Linked DNA regions of Homo sapiens: region 2 is linked to region 1. A link means that fine-mapping ties the variant in region 1 to the expression of a gene that starts in the linked region. Tissue or cell type: whole blood. Region 1 holds a variant in brackets; the other region holds the start of a gene. All regions are shown on one strand. Distances are from middle to middle.

What was found. PIP is the estimated chance that this variant, and not a neighbour inherited with it, causes the effect.
Region 2: it holds the start of AQP10, and the variant in region 1 is fine-mapped to the expression of AQP10 in whole blood (TOPMed, PIP 0.98).

What each region holds. Positions count from the first base shown.
Region 1 is chr1:154,286,803-154,295,062 of GRCh38, reverse strand. LOC124904806 (small nucleolar RNA SNORD59) reads right to left here and starts at 6,603; the gene lies at 6,536-6,603. The variant C/T (reference allele first, on the strand shown) is at 3,743.
Region 2 is chr1:154,316,616-154,324,615 of GRCh38, reverse strand. AQP10 (aquaporin 10) reads right to left here and starts at 3,523. Exons shown (of 6, transcript NM_080429.3): 1 at 3,356-3,523; 2 at 2,557-2,683; 3 at 1,497-1,634; 4 at 1,257-1,375; 5 at 810-1,027; 6 at 1-334. The coding sequence starts at 3,460. The coding sequence ends at 136. RefSeq lists an enhancer at 51-130 and a silencer at 3,553-3,744.

The DNA.
Region 1 (8,260 bases):
GTCTCCTCTCCTTTGGACATGTATTACATGTATATCGGCATGCTTGATGTACCACTGGCCTCTGAGTCTTTTTGTTTTCGGTGTTTTTTTGTTTTTGTTTTTTGGTTTTTTTGTTTCTTTTTTTGAGACAGTCTTGCTTTGTCACCCAGGCTGGAGTGCAGTGACATGAACATGGTCACTGCAGCCTTGACCACCCAGGCTCAAGCGATTCTTCTGCCTCAGCCTCCCAAGTAGTTGGGACTATAGGGGCACACCACCATATCCAGCTTACTTTTGTATGTTTTGTTGAGATAGGGTTTCATCATGTTGCCCAGGCTGGTCTTAAACTCCTGGGCTCAAGCAATCCATCTGCCTCAGCCTCTCAAAGTGCTGGGATTACAGGTGTGAGCCACTGTACCCAGCTGTTCACTTTCCTGCAATCATTTTTGTCTCTGTCATTCAGACTAGATTATTATTATTGATCTATCTTCAAGTTTATTAAATTTTTCCTCTGCTATCTTAAATCTGCTATTGGGTTCATTTAGTAAAATTTTCATTTCAGTTATTTTACTTTATAATTCTAGAATTTCTGTTTGATTCTTTTTTTATAGCTTCTATTTCTCTGTTGAGATTCCATATTTATTGAGTCATTGTTAAACATTTTTATTTAATTCCTTGAACATATTTATAATATGTGCTTTAAAGTCTTTGTCTGCCAAATTCAACTTCTGGGCCTACTCAGAGTCAGTTTTTATTTTTATTTATTTTTTTTTTTTTTGAGACAGAGTCTCACTCTATCACCCAGGCTGGAGTGCAGTGGTGCCATCTCGGCTCACTGCAAGCCCCGCTTCCCAGGTTCACACCATTCTCCTGCCTCAGCCTCCCAAGTAGCTGGGACTACAGGCGCCCGCCACAATGCCCGGCTAATTTTTTTGTTAGCCAGGATGGTCTTGATCTCCTGAGCTCGTGATCTGCCAGCCTCGGCCTCCCAAAGTGCTGGGATTACAGGTGTGAGCTACTGTGCCTGGACTCAGTTTTTATTTTGTTTTTTATTGTTTTTTTTTTTGGAGACAGAGTGTTGCTCTGTCACCCAGGCTGGAGTGCAGTGGAATGATCTCAGCTCACTGCAACCTCCGCCTCCCAGGTTCAAGCAATTCTCCTGCCTCAGCCTCCCCAGTAGCTAGGATTATAGGCGCCCACCACCATGCCTGACTAATTTTTGTATTTTTAGTAGTGACAGGGTTTCATCATGTTGGCCAGGCTGGTCTCAAACACCTGACCTCAGGTGATCCACCCGCCTCGGCCTCTCAAAGTGCTGGGATTACAGGCGTGAGCCACTGCACCCGGCTAGTTTTCATTGACTTTTAAAATCAGGATATGAGTTACTGTTTTTTAGGTTTCTTCGCATGTGTCATAATTTTTTTCTTGAAAACTGATCATTTTATCCTCTTCCTCCTCTAAAAAACTGGTCATTTTAGATAATAGACTGTAATAACTCTGGATTCTGTTGTATTTTTCCGAAAGGTGGTGATGCTGGTGATGCTGATGGGGTGTGTGTGTGTGTGTGTGTGTGTGTGTGTGTAATTTGGAGTTAAACCGTAGAGTCTGGATTCTATTGTATTTTTCTGAATGGTGGTGATGCTGGTGATGCTGATGTGTGTGTGTGTGTCATTTGTCTGGAGTTAAACTGTAGAGTCTATCATTCCACAGTGTGCAGCTGCTAATGTGTCTGCTCAGTTTTTATTCTCGTTTTTTTTGTTTGTTTGTTTGTTTTGTTTTGTTTTGTTTTGTTTTGTTTTGTTTTGTTTGAGATGGAGTTTTGCTTTTGTTGTCCAGGCTGGAGTGCAATGGCATGATCTTGGCTCACTGCAACCTCTGCCTCCAGGGGTCAAGTGATTCTCCTGCCTCAGCCTCCTGAGTAGTGAGTAGCTGGGATTACAGGCATGCACTACTATGCCTGGCTAATTCTGTATTTTTAGTAGAGACAGGGTTTCTCCATGTTGGTCAGGCTGGTCTTCAACTCCTGACCTCAGGTGATCTTCCCACCTCGGCCTCCGAAAGTGCTGGGATTACAGGCATGAGCCACCATGCCCGGCCATTTATTCTTGTTTTTAAAATTTTCCCACAGGGGTCAGGCATGGTGGCTCACCTTTAATCCCAGCACTTTTGGGAGGCCAAAGCGGCTTGAGCTCAGGAGTTTGAGACCAGCCTGGGCAACATACCAAGACCCCATCTCTACTAAAAATACAAAAACTTAGCAGGTAGTGGTGGCATGTACCTGTGGTCCCAGCTACTCATGAGCTGAAGTAGGAAGATTGCTTGCGACTGGGAGGCAGAGGTTGCAGTGAACCGAGATCATGCCACTATACTTCAGCCAGGGTGACAGAGTGAGACCCCTATCTCAAATAATAATAATAATAAATTTTTCCAGCCAGGTGCAGTGGCTCATGTCTGTAATCCCAGCACTTTGGGAGGCTAAGGTGGATGGATCACCTGAGGTCAGGAGTTTGAGGCCATCCTGGCAAACATGGCGATACCCCATCTCTACTAAAAATACAAAATTTAGCCGGGCATGGTGGCACCCAGCTATACTCTCAGCTACTCGGGAAGCTGAGGTAGGAGAATTGCTTGATCCTGGGAAGTGGAGGTTTCAGTGAGCCAAGATCGAGCCATTGCACTCCAGCCTGGGCGACAGAGTTAGACTCCGTCTCAAAAAAAAAAAAATGTTCCCTCAAGGATTAGAACAGGAATTAAAAGAAATTAAAGACTGTAGGCCGGTCGCAGTGGCTCATGCCTGTAATCTCAGCACTTTGGGAGGCTGAGGTGGGTGGATCACAAGGTCAGGAGTTTGAGACCAGCCTGGCTAACACGGTGAAACTCCATCTCTACTAAAAATACAAAAAAATTAGCCAGGCATGGTGGCGGGCACCTGTAGTCCCAGCTACTCGGGAGGCTGAGGCAGGAGAATGGCGTGAACCTGGGAAGCGGGGCTTGCAGTGAGCCAAGATGGCGCCACTGCCCTCCAGCTTGGGCAACAGAGTGAGACTCTGTCTCAAAAAAAAAAAAAAAATTAAAGACTGTGTAAGCAAAAACTCAGTTGTATGTAAGAAAACCCAATTCCCCCTTGAGGAACAGAAAGGGCTGGAGTCCTTTAAAATTAACTGCCTGTTTTTCTCTCTGTGGCTAGTGAGCCTTATCTCTCCATTTACCAGGCATTGTGAAGACTCTGTTTCTCTAGCTGTGCAGCTGCAAGGTCACTAGACAGATAATCTCAAGTCGTAAAACATGTTGTTCCTTGAACAGTAAGAAATAATGTAATGCATGCCTTAACTGAATAACTGTCTTTGTCTCTCGCTTCTATAATACGCTTCCCCCCGCACAGATCTCCCCCCACCCCACGAAATGCTTAAAAGGTAGCTTGACTCTTTGTTCCAGGCTCAGTCCTTTGGATGTTAATCCAACTGGGTCAGTGAACCTAAATAATTAAATAACTCCTCCTCAATCCCTCGGTCTCTCTGATTCCTTAATTATCCCGCAGCAGTATCACCCCTATGCTTACATAGCACAGTGTTCAGCCAATGATTAGAATAAGCATTGTGTTCCAACACCTCAAGCCCATATAGCATCCACTTCTGCCAATATATCTGTTTGAAGGATGAGAAGTGTATTAAAATGTGCAGCAGTGTTCAAGTCTTCCTTGTCTTTTATTTTTCAGGGAGCTCTCTGAGCTATCCTCCATGCATATGATAGTTTCCCAGTGAGC[C/T]AGGGATGTGGGAGAGCTTATCTCAGCCCTTTTGTAGTTTCCTATTTTCCAGCTAAATTTCTGGCTTTTCCACCACTGAACACAACTAGGAGTGCTACTTTGAGTTAGTACAGCTAGAGGGTTTTTTGCCTGTTTATTTCCTACCAACTTCATATCATTCAGCTGAGAACATTGTAGGCTTTTGTCCGCCTCCACCTAACTAACTCCTACAATTTCAGTCTACCCACTGTGACAGCAAACATTGCTGATTTTCACAGCCAGTTCCATACTGGTAAAACTACAGTTCCCAGCCACCAAGGAAGTTGGATGGGAGCAGCCTCAGGCAAGAAGGCTGCAAACTCACATTGCTTTTGCTTGAAGCTGTAGCAGTTTTTCAAGAATAAAAGCTCCTCAATTTGTTTTCTGCCTTGCTCAGTTTCCAGAGACTTGAAATCATTGTTTGGGGCAATTTTATTTAATTTCATAGTTTTTTTGGTGAAGATTCACAGATCCCTTTACACTGCTATAGCCAGAAGTTCCTTGGTGTAGTTTTTATTTATTTATTTATTTTAATGTATCTTATTTTTATTTTTATTTTTTTTGAGACAGTCTCGCTGTGTTGTCCAGGCTGGAGTGCAATGGTGTGATCTCGGCTCACCGCAACCTCTTCCTTCAAGGTTCAAGCGATTCTCCTGCCTCAGCCTCCCAAGTAGCTAGGATTACAGGTGCCTGCCACCATGCCCAGGTAATTTTGTATTTTTAGTAGAGATAGGGTTTCACCATGTTGGCCAGGCTGGTCTCAAACTCCGGACCTCAGGTGATCTGCTGCCTCGGCCTCCCAAAGTGCTGGGATTACAGGCATGAACCCCGCGCACGTTCCTTGGTGTAGTTTTAAATTGACATGAGTGTTACTGTGCAAACAATATGGTTTTGTTTTTTCACTCATTACTATTTTTAAGATCTCTCCATGTTGTCTTTTGAATATTTTGTATATCTGCTGAGTAGCATTCTATACTATGCAACTCCCATATTTAACCTTTCTTTTTCTTTCTTTCTTTCTTTTTTTTTGAGATGGAGTCTCGCTCTGTTGCCCAGGCTGGAGTGCAATGGCGTGATCTCAGCTCACTGCAACCTCCATCTCCCAGGTTCTAGCGATTCTCTTGCCTCAGCCTCCCAAGTAGCTGGGACTACAGGCGCCTGCCACCATGCCCAGCTAATTTTTGTATTTTTAGTAGGGACAGGGTTTCACCGTGTTGACCAGGCTGGTCTCGAACTCCGGACCTCAGGTGATCTGCTCTCCTTAGCCTCCCAAAGTGCTGGGATTACAGGCGTGAGCCACTGCACCAGGCTTATATTTAACCTTTCTACTTTGCTAATGAAAGTCACCCAAAACTGAGTTCTAACATTGAGCTTCCACAAATAATGCTGTGATAAATATTCTTGCATGTGACCCCTTATGAATCTAGACACAAGTTTCTCTGTAACGTATATGAAGGAGTTGAGGACTAAACTCTAATTTTTTTTATCTTGCCCAAATTCCTATCTAAGGGATCTGGGGAGTCATGACCTACAAATCATAAATTCTCATCAGATAGGTTTTATTTAACCCTATATATCATGATTTACTTTCCAACCTGACTCTGGTATAACATTACGAGACAAAGAAGAAAATCAAAATATTTTACCCCAAAACATGTTTCTTTGTCATATTTTAAAATGCCCCTGCAAAGCTGTTCTTTGTGGGGAAAATCTACATCCATAAAGAATCTCTATTAACATAGCCAGGGCTGGGGGCGGTGTCTCATGCTTGTAATCCCAGCACTTTGGGAGGCTGAGGCAGGAAAATCACTTGAACCCAAGAGTTGGAGGCTGCAGTGAGTGGAGATCGCGCCATTGCACTCCAGCTTGGGAGACAGAGCGAGGCTCCATCTCAAAAAAAAAATATATATATATATATATATTTATACATAAATACATATATATAAAAATACATATACATATACATATATATAAATATATATATGTGTATATATATATACATCTTTTTCTTCCAGATCCTCCCAATCCTAAAGAGACTAACTGAGATCTGAATAGGAAACATTTGTCACCTATTGTCTCCAAGGCAGCCATTATGAGACTTCAAAAGAGCTTTGGTCTCCACAATCTTTATCTTAACCTGAACATTCCCTTTCTATCTATCCCAGCTCTTTAGACAACCTTAACCAATTGTCAACCAGAAAACATTTAAATTCACCTATAGCCTCGAAGCCCCCACTTTGAGTTGTTCCACCTTTCTAGACCAAACCAATGTATGTCTTAAATGTATTTAATTGATGTGTCATTCTTCTCTAAAGTGTATAAAACCAAGCTGCACTCCAACCACTTTGTGCACAGGTTCTCAGGACTTCCTGAGGGTTGTGTCACAGGCCATGGTCAGTCATCTTTGAGTCAGAATAAATCTCTTCAAATATTTTACAGAGTTCCACTCTTTTGGTCGACAGAGTAGAATTGCTGGGTCATAGAGCATGTGCATATTTAATTTCACAAAGCTCTGCCAGATTCTTTACTACAAAAATGGAAACGGCTGCATGTCTCACACTCCAGGAGTACAGCAGGGATTTGTTTCCTCTCATCTTGGATCTTGCTAATATTTGGTATTACCGGACTAATTTTTGCCTACCTGATGGGTGTAAAGTGGTATCTCATTATTATTTTAATGTGCATTTTTCTGATTGCGTTCAAGGTAGAGGATTAATTTATACTGTTGGTATTCAGATTTCCCCTTCTGTGATTGCTTACCATGTTTATTTTTTTCCTTCCCAGGAATGGCATCTGGGTTCAGCAAACTCAGAATGAAAGTCAGAAGCTACTCATCAGTGAGTGCTTAATCATGTTTTTTACCTATTTTCTTTTTTTCTTTTTCTTTTTTTTTTATTGATCATTCTTGGGTGTTTCTCGCAGAGGGGGATTTGGCAGGGTCACAGGACAATAGTGGAGGGAAGGTCAGCAGATAAACAAGTGAACAAAGGTCTCTGGTTTTCCTAGGCAGAGGACCCTGCGGCCTTCCGCAGTGTTTGTGTCCCTGGGTACTTGAGATTGGGGAGTGGTGATGACTCTTAAAGAGCATGCTGCCTTCAAGCATCTGTTTAACAAAGCACATCTTGCACCGCCCTTAATCCATTCAACCCTGAGTGGATACAGCACCTGTTTCAGAGAGCACAGGGTTGGGGGTAAGGTCACAGATCTACAGGATCCCAAGGCAGAAGAATTTTTCTTAGTACAGAACAAAATGAAAAGTCTCCCATGTCTACCTCTTTCTACACAGACACGGCAACCATCCGATTTCTCAATCTTTTCCCCACCTTTCCCCCCTTTCTATTCCACAAAACCGCCATTATCATCATGGCCCGTTCTCAATGAGCTGTTGGGTACACCTCCCAGACGGGGTGGTGGCCGGGCAGAGGGGCTCCTTACTTCCCAGTAGGGGCGGCGGGGCAGAGGCGCCCCTCACCTCCCGGACGGGGCGGCTGGCCGGGCGGGGGGCTGACCCCCCACCTCCCGCCCGGACGGGGCGGCTGCCGGGCAGAGACGCTCCTCACTTCCCAGACGGGGTGGCTGCTGGGCGGAGGGGCTCCTCACTTCTCAGACCGGGCGGCTGCCGGGCGGAGGGGCTCCTCACTTCTCAGACGGGGCGGTTGCCAGGCAGAGGGTCTCCTCACTTCTCAGACGGGGCGGCCGGGCAGAGACGCTCCTCACATCCCGGACGGGGCGGCAGGGCAGAGGTGCTCCCCACATCTCAGACGATGGGTGGCCGGGCAGAGACGCTCCTCACTTCCCAGATGGGATGGCGGCCGGGAAGAGGCGCTCCTCACTTCCTAGATGGGATGGCGGCCGGGCAGAGACCCTCCTCACTTTCCAGACTAGGCAGCCAGGCAGAGGGGCTCCTCACATCCCAGACGATGGGCGGCCGGGCAGAGACGCTCCTCACTTCCCAGACGGGGTGGCGGCCGGGCAGAGGCTGCAATCTCGGCACTTTGGGAGGCCAAGGCAGGCTGCTGGGAGGTGGAGGTTGTAGCGAGCCGAGATCACTCCACTGCACTCCAGCCTGGGCACCATTGAGCACTGAGTGAAGGAGACTCCGTCTGCAATCCCGGCACCTCGGGAGGCCGAGGCTGGTGGATCACTCGCGGTTAGGAGCTGGAGACCAGCCTAGCCAACACAGCGAAACCCCATCTCCACCAAAAAAATACGAAAACCAGTCAGGCATGGCGGCGTGCGCCTGCAATCACAGGCATTCGGCAGGCTGAGGCAGGAGAATCAGGAAGGGAGGTTGCAGTGAGCCGAGATGGCAGCAGTACCGTCCAGCTTTGGCTCGACATCAGAGGGAGACCGTGGAAAGAGAGGGAGAGGGAGACCGTGGGGAGAGGGAGAGGGAGAGGGAGCCCTATTTTCTTGCTTTTAGTTTAGTGCCTTATTGATTTGAGGAGTGGGTTGTGTGGTCTAGATATTAACCCATTGCTTGCTTTAAATTTTGCAAAC
Region 2 (8,000 bases), 30 kb before region 1:
GAAGGGATGCCAAACAGATAAACAGAGAAGCCTCCCAGGTTCTGGCACATTAACAAAGAGGAAGAATGACTGTTGTTCCCAGGCGGGGTCAGTGGCTGGCTCCAGGGTCCATGAGTGAAGTGAGGGTTGTCCTAATCATAGCTTACACTCCAGCATCTGAGCTGAGGCAGGAGTTTCCAACTCTGAGGCTTTGTGTTGAGCAGACACCAGATCCTGAGCTGGCTCTGGGCCCTCAGGGTGGTGCAGAGCCACCAACAGCTGGTAAGTGGCTGTGCCAACGGTGGCCCCCACCAGAGGGGCCACCACAGGCACCCACCACCAGCCATTACCAGCACTGCAAAAGAAGGACAGTGGGAAGGTATCAGGAGTGACTCCCTTAGCCTTCCCCTCTCCAAGGACGGGGGGCAGTAACAAGAGAGTGCCCTAAAGTTGTTCCCAGGGTGGTAGACACCAGGAAGAGGATTGCCTTGTCACCAAAGCATAGTATTTAGAAGAGGGAACCCCAGGAGAGCTTGGTCCAGCCTCTTGCCTTAGGGAATTATCTGAATATATTAATTTTGCTGATGAAGTCACTAATGTGCATGGAAGTAATGTGGCATGCCTAAGAACACAACCTCTAAATCTTACTGTTTCAGTGAAAAGTTGGGAGGGAAGCAAGGGAGAAAGGGGGAGAATATGACTTGGAGAAAGAACACTGTCCTAAGAAGCCAAGAGAGCTATTTTAAAGGCAGAGTGCTGTGGACCCAGGGACAGAGCCCTTAGCAGAGGAAGGTGAGTGGAGGCCAGCACCAGGAGAGTCTGTCTCCCACCTGAAGACTTCAGGACCCCAGCCAGCCACGTAGGTGAAGAGACGTGGGCCCAGGTCCCGGGCAGGGTTGAGTGGAATCCCGCAGTTGGCACCCATGGATAACCCGAGGGCCAGGATCAGCATCCCCACCACCACAGGCTCCAGACCCGCAGGGACTCCCTTGTTCCGTCTGTCCAGGATGGCCAAGAGCCCCACAATCAGCATCCCAGTGCCCAGAACCTTGGAGTCAACAGAGGCAGAGGGTTCCCTGTCAGCTGCCAGGTGCTCCATCTGCCCTCTCTCATCCAAATATTCCATGTCATCTGGCTTTGTGCAACACAGGCAGTTGGGGATGGTGGGGAGTGCCAAGATAGACCCAACCCACACTCCACCCAGAGACTGAACAATAGGCTGGGGTGCCGAGGAACAGGACCAAAGTAGTGTCCCCAGGTCTCCCCCTCACACTTACCTGATCCAGGAAGCCATTGTTCAGGGACAGATAGGGGGCAGGATAGGTGGCAAAAATGGAGGCTGTCTCCTTGGGGCCAGTCACTGTCAGGTTCCCACCTGTATAGTTCTGTAGGGCATCTGTGGAGGAAGGGAACACCCAGGATTTCCCTCTTTGCTCATTCATCCAAAACCATTCTGAGGCACCCCTGCCCACCCACAGGTGCTCTCAAGGCACAGCTCCCTCTGTTCCCTCTGTCACCATGGTAGAGAACATAGGTGGCTCCCGAAGCACAGAAAGCAGACAGCAACTGCACCAAGATGTAAATGGGGAGCTTGACCCAGGGGAGGCGTCCAACGATGCACATGGCCAGGGAGAAGGCTGGATTCAGGTGGGCCCCTTCAAGTATCAAGGAAAGAAAAAGAGCATCTATTAAGTGTCACTGCCAGGCATTGTCACCAGACAACACTACTGCTCCTTCCTATAGCTCTTAAGGCAGATAGTGTAATTCTCATCACACAGCTTAGGAAATTGAGGCTCCAGATGTTACAGATGTTAAGTGACTTAGCAAAGTCACACTGTGGGCCAGGCACAGTGGCTCACGCCTGTAATCCCAGCACTTTGGGAGGCCGAGGCAGTGGATCACTTGAGGTCAGGAATTCCAGACCAGCCTGGCCAACATGGTGAAACCCCGTTTCCACTAAAAACACAAATATTAGCCAGGCGTGGTAGCAGGTGCCTGTAAAATCAGCTATTCGGGATGCTGAGGCAGGAGAATCGCGTGAACCCAGGGGCAGAGGTTGCAGTGAACAGACATCACACCACTGCTCTCCAGCCTGGGCAACAGAGTGAAACTCCATCTCAAAAAAAAAGAAAAAAAAAAAAAAAAAAGAAGAAGACACTGTGAATCCAAAGTTGGAACCTAGGTCTGTCTGCTTTTTCCACAGCAACACACTATGTCTCAAGGCTCCACCCAAGCACACCGATGCAGTGTGTATCTGGGGTACAAACAGGAGAGGTCCTGAGTGGAGATGAGCCCCCAGAGGACTTCAGGTGGGGGATACAAGAGGATAGCAGCTGCCCTTCGTGCCCTGCCATTGATTTCTGTCTAGGTGAGCCAAGCATTAGTGTGAGGAAGCAGGATGGAGAGATACAGAAAGAGGAGGGGCTGGTGGGGCCAAAGGCTTATTTCAGTCTGGGACACTGTTCAAGGGGATAATGTCCACGAGTCACAGAAGGATTTGCGTTTCCACCATCACCAGACAGACAAACTGGCATGCACATCCCACGTGCTCTGATGACCAGACCCCACCCTCCTCACCTGAGACGTTACCACCCACGTAGATGGCTATCGTAACGGCCAGAGAGCCAGCCAGAAACATGGTGAAGAAGTTGCCTTTGGTTTCTCCACTGGTGACAGCCTGGGCCACAGCTCCTTGGGTGAGGAGCTGCTGAGAAGAGGAGAGATGAGGAACAGGGAGCCCAGGAGACCAACAGGGAGAAAGGTTGGGAAGGCCAGGGGAGCAGCCAAGGAGATGAATGAGCACAGAAGACAAGCAAGGGAAGGAGAAAAGCAGAAGGAGGGAAGGGAAAAGAAATGGGGAAAGTGGAGGAAGAAGAAAGGGAAAGAATGTGGGAAAAAAGAAAAGAATTTACCCAACTCATAGGCATTTGAGGGTACAAACCCATGGCAGGGCTCAGCTTTAAAAAGTCTTATCTAAGATTCTTTCTATGGAAGAGTTCCATCAAAGCCAATTTTAAAAGCCTATGTGAAAAATAATTATTCTTGCTGCACTTTATACAATCATCAGGCCAAGTATAATAAAGCACATTGGTCTTACCATGAAAATGGTCTTTCATAAAAATGGGAAACTGAAGAGAGAAAAATTATGTTTCAAGAACTATGATACACTTGTTATTAAAGAAAGAATAAAAATGACAAGAATAAAAATGATGAAGTAGGAGAGGAAAGGAGATTAGGAGAGACGAGAGGATAAAAACGAAAAGTGATAGGGAGTTGAGAGGAAGGGGGACACCAAGAGAAAGAGATAAGGACAACAGAAGGAGCCAGGAACTTTTGCCCAACCCCCTTCTTTCCTTCCCGCAGTGATCCTACCTACCATGAGTACAAACACACCCAGAAACTCTGCCAGGCACTGCCGGGCCAGGAGGCTGCGTATCCGGAGGTGGCCCATGATTTCAGCCGGGGCCTGAGTGAAGACCATGGTGGAAACACCCTATTGCTATTCACTGCTCCCTCTGTCTGCATAGGCACACTGTCACTGCACAGCTACTGCCTGCCTCCAGCAAAGATAAGGAACAGACTTTAAAACCATTAGCTCAGTTCCTGAACAGCAGCTACGTGTCTGTGCACGTGTGTAGGCTAGGAAACAGAGAGATAACAAGAGAATGTCTGGGAGCAGGCTATGAACACAGAGCCTGGAGTTTACCCAACCTCTGTCTCTTTTACCCTTCATTCCCAGTCATCACAGGACTAGCCTCCCCCATCCTGACAAATAGAAGGAAGTACCCCGCTTCATAGACATTAGATCTCTTGGTCCTGAAGTCAGCTCTGCAAAGTAGTACTATTGCTTCCATTCTACAGATGAGGCTAGTGGGCCTTAGAACTCCCCAAGATCAAACTTTTTTTTTTTTTTTTTCTGAGAGAGAGTCTTGCTCTGTCCCCCAGGCTGGAGTGCAGTGGCACCATCTCAGCTTACTGCAACCTCCACCTCCCAGGTTCAAGCAATTCTCCTGCCTCAGCCTCCCAAGTAGATGGGACTACAGGTCCATCACACCTGGCTAATTTTGATATTTTTTAGTAAAGACTTGGTTTCTCGGGAGGCCGAGGCAGGCAGATCACGAGGTCAGGAGATCAAGACTATCCTGGCCAACATGGTGAAACTCCATCTCTACTAAAATACAAAAAAATTAGCGTGGTGGTGCACGCCTGTAGTCCCAGCTACTCGGGAGGCTGAGGCAGGGGAATCACTTGAACCAGGGAGGCGGAGGTTGCAGTGAGCCGAGATTGTGCCACTGCACTCCAGCCTGGCAACAGAGCGAGACTTTGTCTCAAAAAAAAAAAAAAAAAAAAAGACGGGGTTTCACCATGTTGGCCAGGCTGGTCTCAAACTCCTGACCTCTAGTGATTCACCTTCCTTGGCCTCCCAAAGTGCTGGGATTACAAGCGTGAGCCACCGTGCCCGGCCCAAGATCACACAATTATTTCATGGCTGAGTGAATTCAAATCCAGATTTTCTGACTCTCCAGCTGGTAACCCACAAAGCCTCTCATTTAGAACCTGAAGCCTTACCCCAAACCATTTGGATGCTTGAAGAACTCAATAGGCATCTGGAAAGACTGGGCTAAAGACCACAGACTGTGGGAATGAAACTCACATATTGAGTGCTTGTACTTCCCTTATGCCGAGTGTCACATAGGTTAGAGAATACTCCATCTTTGTGTCCCCTGACATGGCTTGACATGAGGCCTTCACACTCATGCTGAGCTCCACCTGGCCTTCTCTGGGTGCATGCCACTCTTGCTCTGCATGAAGTAACCGCATCCTACTTCTTCATATCTCAAGGCTCCAATTAAATGCATTCAAAGAATCTACGTCTAGACACTGGAGAAACAGTGGTGAACAAAACATAGTCTCTGCCCTCCTAGAGCTTATGTTCTAGTAGGTGGAAACAGACAATATGCAACTTTTTAAAATACCATATACAGTTTATGAAGTTCTTGAGGGCTACCATTATGATTTATGTAACCCTGTGGGCTCTACCACTGTCCTGGGCACATCTGTGTGACTAGTAAAGAAATAATATTTCTTTACTAGGTTTAATGGATACTATAGTGCTCCACCCAGATTCCCCCTTGGGAGCCAATATGCCCATTCGCTACATGTAGGAAATACCAGCTGCTGATACCACATAGCTACCTCCCTCATTGGGCAATGCCCTTCAAGTCAGAAAGATGCCTCACCGAAGGTTACATGCCCTCCTATGGGGCCCATGTCAAACACTGATTGATGGAGGGATATAAAAGTCTAGCCTCTTTGCCTCACTTTGCGACAACTCTAAAGGGCTGTTCCAGCTCCAGTTCCCCCATAGGATCCATTTAGGCATCTGTTATATCATCCATGTGTGTCAGTTTCTCCTGGTGCCTAATCTTGTTACAGGAAAGGGGTCTGAATCCAGATCCCAAGAGAGGGTTCTTGGATCTCACACTAGAAATAATTCAGGCTGAGTGCGGCGGCTCATGCCTGTAATCCTAGCACTTTGGGAGGCCAAGGCGGGATCACAAAGTCAGGAGATTGAGACCATCCTGGCTAACATGGTGAAACCCCGTCTCCATTAAAAATACAAAAAAATTAGCCGGGCATGGTGGTGGGCGCCTGTAGTCCCAGCTACTTGGGAGGCTGAGGCAGGAGAATGGCATGAACCCGGGAGGTGGAGGTTGCAGTGAGCCGAGATCGCACCACTGCACTCCAGCCTGGGTGACAGAACGAGACTCCGCCTCAAAAAAAAGAAAAAAAGAATTCAGGGCGAGTCCATAGAGTAAAGTGAAAGCAAGTTTATTAGGAAAGTAAAGGAATAAAACAATGGCTACTCCATAGACAGAGCAGCCCCGAGGGCTGCTGGTTGCCCATGTTTATGGTTGTTTCTTGATGATATGCTAAACAAGAGGTGGATTATTCATGCCTCCCCTTTTTAGACCATATAGGGTAACTTCCTGTCATTGTCATGGCATTTATAAACTGTCATGGCATGAGCCACCATGCCCGGCCATGACCTGTATCTTATGGCAACCTCCTATCTCATTCTGTAACTTAGAATGCTTTAACCATCTGGGAATGCAGCCCAGTAAGTCTCATTCTCATTTTACTCAGCTCTTGTTCAAAATAGACTTGCTCTGGTTCACGTGCCTCTGACATTTCCCCCCTTCCTTTTATAAGAGAAGCACTAATCCTAAGGGTTGCAGAGGGACGAAGGTCCATCTTCTGTAAGTTCTTCAGGATGAATAGGGGCGATGATATTTTTGCCTAACTCTTAGAATCTCTCATATTCGTGGTAGAGAGGAGCTCAGTTGGAAAGTGTTGGTATGGGCCAGGCGGGATGGCTCATGCCTGTAATCCCAACACTTTGGGAGGCTGAGGCAGGCGGATCACCTGAGGTCAGGAGTTCAGACCAGCCTGGCCAACATGGTGCAACACTGTCTCTACTAAAAAATACAAAAAAAATAGCCAGATGTGGTGGCGGGTGCCTGTAACCCTAGCTACTCAGGAGGCTGAGGCAGGAGAATCTCTTGAACCTGGGAGGCGGAGGTTGCAGTGAGCCAAGACTGTGCCATTGCACTCCAGCCTGAAAGAATGAAACTCCATCTGAAAGAAAAGAAAAGAAGGGAAGGGAAGGGAAGGGAAGAAAAAGCATTGGTATCTTGAGGGCCATTCATAACTCATGAGTTCTGACAAAAGGTGATACTCTGGAAGATTCATAAGTGTTCAGTTTAAGGAAACATTCAGTAAGCTTGTCCTCCATTCCTATACAAAGATTACAACAGCTATACATTCCACAACCATAAAGCAAAATAAGTAAAATTATCCCAAGTAAACTAAACTAGAAGGCTTTCCATGAACTGAGGAACTGTTGGAACCACGCTGATATGAGGTTGCTAGATGATTCCAGTACATGCCCAGAATTAGAATATTGATGCAGATTTTTACATTACCCATCCCTCTTGTTTCTTCTGAGCAGCAGTCAGAGGCCACTGGTTGGTTCACAGGACTAAGCAGGGTTAGCCTAAATTGCAGAAACAAACTTAAAGACAACTGATGAGACTGGAATTTAATAACAAGTGTATCATAGTTCTTGAAACATAATTTTTCTCTCTCCAGTTTCCCATTTTTATGAAAGACCATTTTTATGGTAAGACCAATGTGCTTTATTATACTTGGCCTGATGATTGTATAAAGTGCAGCAAGAATAATTATTTTTCACGTAGGCTTTTAAAATTGGCTTTGATGGAACTCTGTTCCATAGAAAGAATCTTGGATAAGACTTTTTAAAGCTGAGCCCTGCCATGGGTTTGTGCCCTCAAATACCTTTGAGTTGGGTAAATTCTTCCTCTCCTTTTGAGGTCCCCAGATAACTTGGGGCTCCTGGACCTTTTAGAAGGTGACATTCTTTACTTACCACAGGTCAGAAACCCTGTACAGGGACTGTGTAGGCAAGGTTATGAGCCCAGGTCGCTAAGTGGCTTTTATAGGCTTTACAAGTCAAGTTTGATTCCTTAATGGAAAGCACACCATTCCAGTCAAACCCTTCATAAAATAAACAATTTCTCCAATTGTGTCCTGTTGCAAAAGAAAACAGATTCTTATTACCCTTATGCAAATAACTGCATTGCCATAAATTAAGAATACACACAAATAATTTCCAAATTCTGGAGAAATCAAGTAGAGAGATGCATATACTCCAAATTTTGTTCACAGGAGTATACTTTACTCGATTATTAAAAGCTGTAAATATCTGAAAAGAAAAGTTGCCTTGACTCTAAAAAATAAAACAAAGGATCAGCAATGTTTTAAGCAAAGGCAAAAAGATTGCTTTAGTCTTCTTTAGTTTATGCAGTTAACTTTTGTTTGATATCTATGAACATTTCAGCTCCCCATGAGAGTTCTGAAAGTTGTTTCCTCTATTCTAATGTCACAATCTCCAAAGTTATCAGAAACCTGCATTTAAGTGCACCTGTTAAAGTCCTATG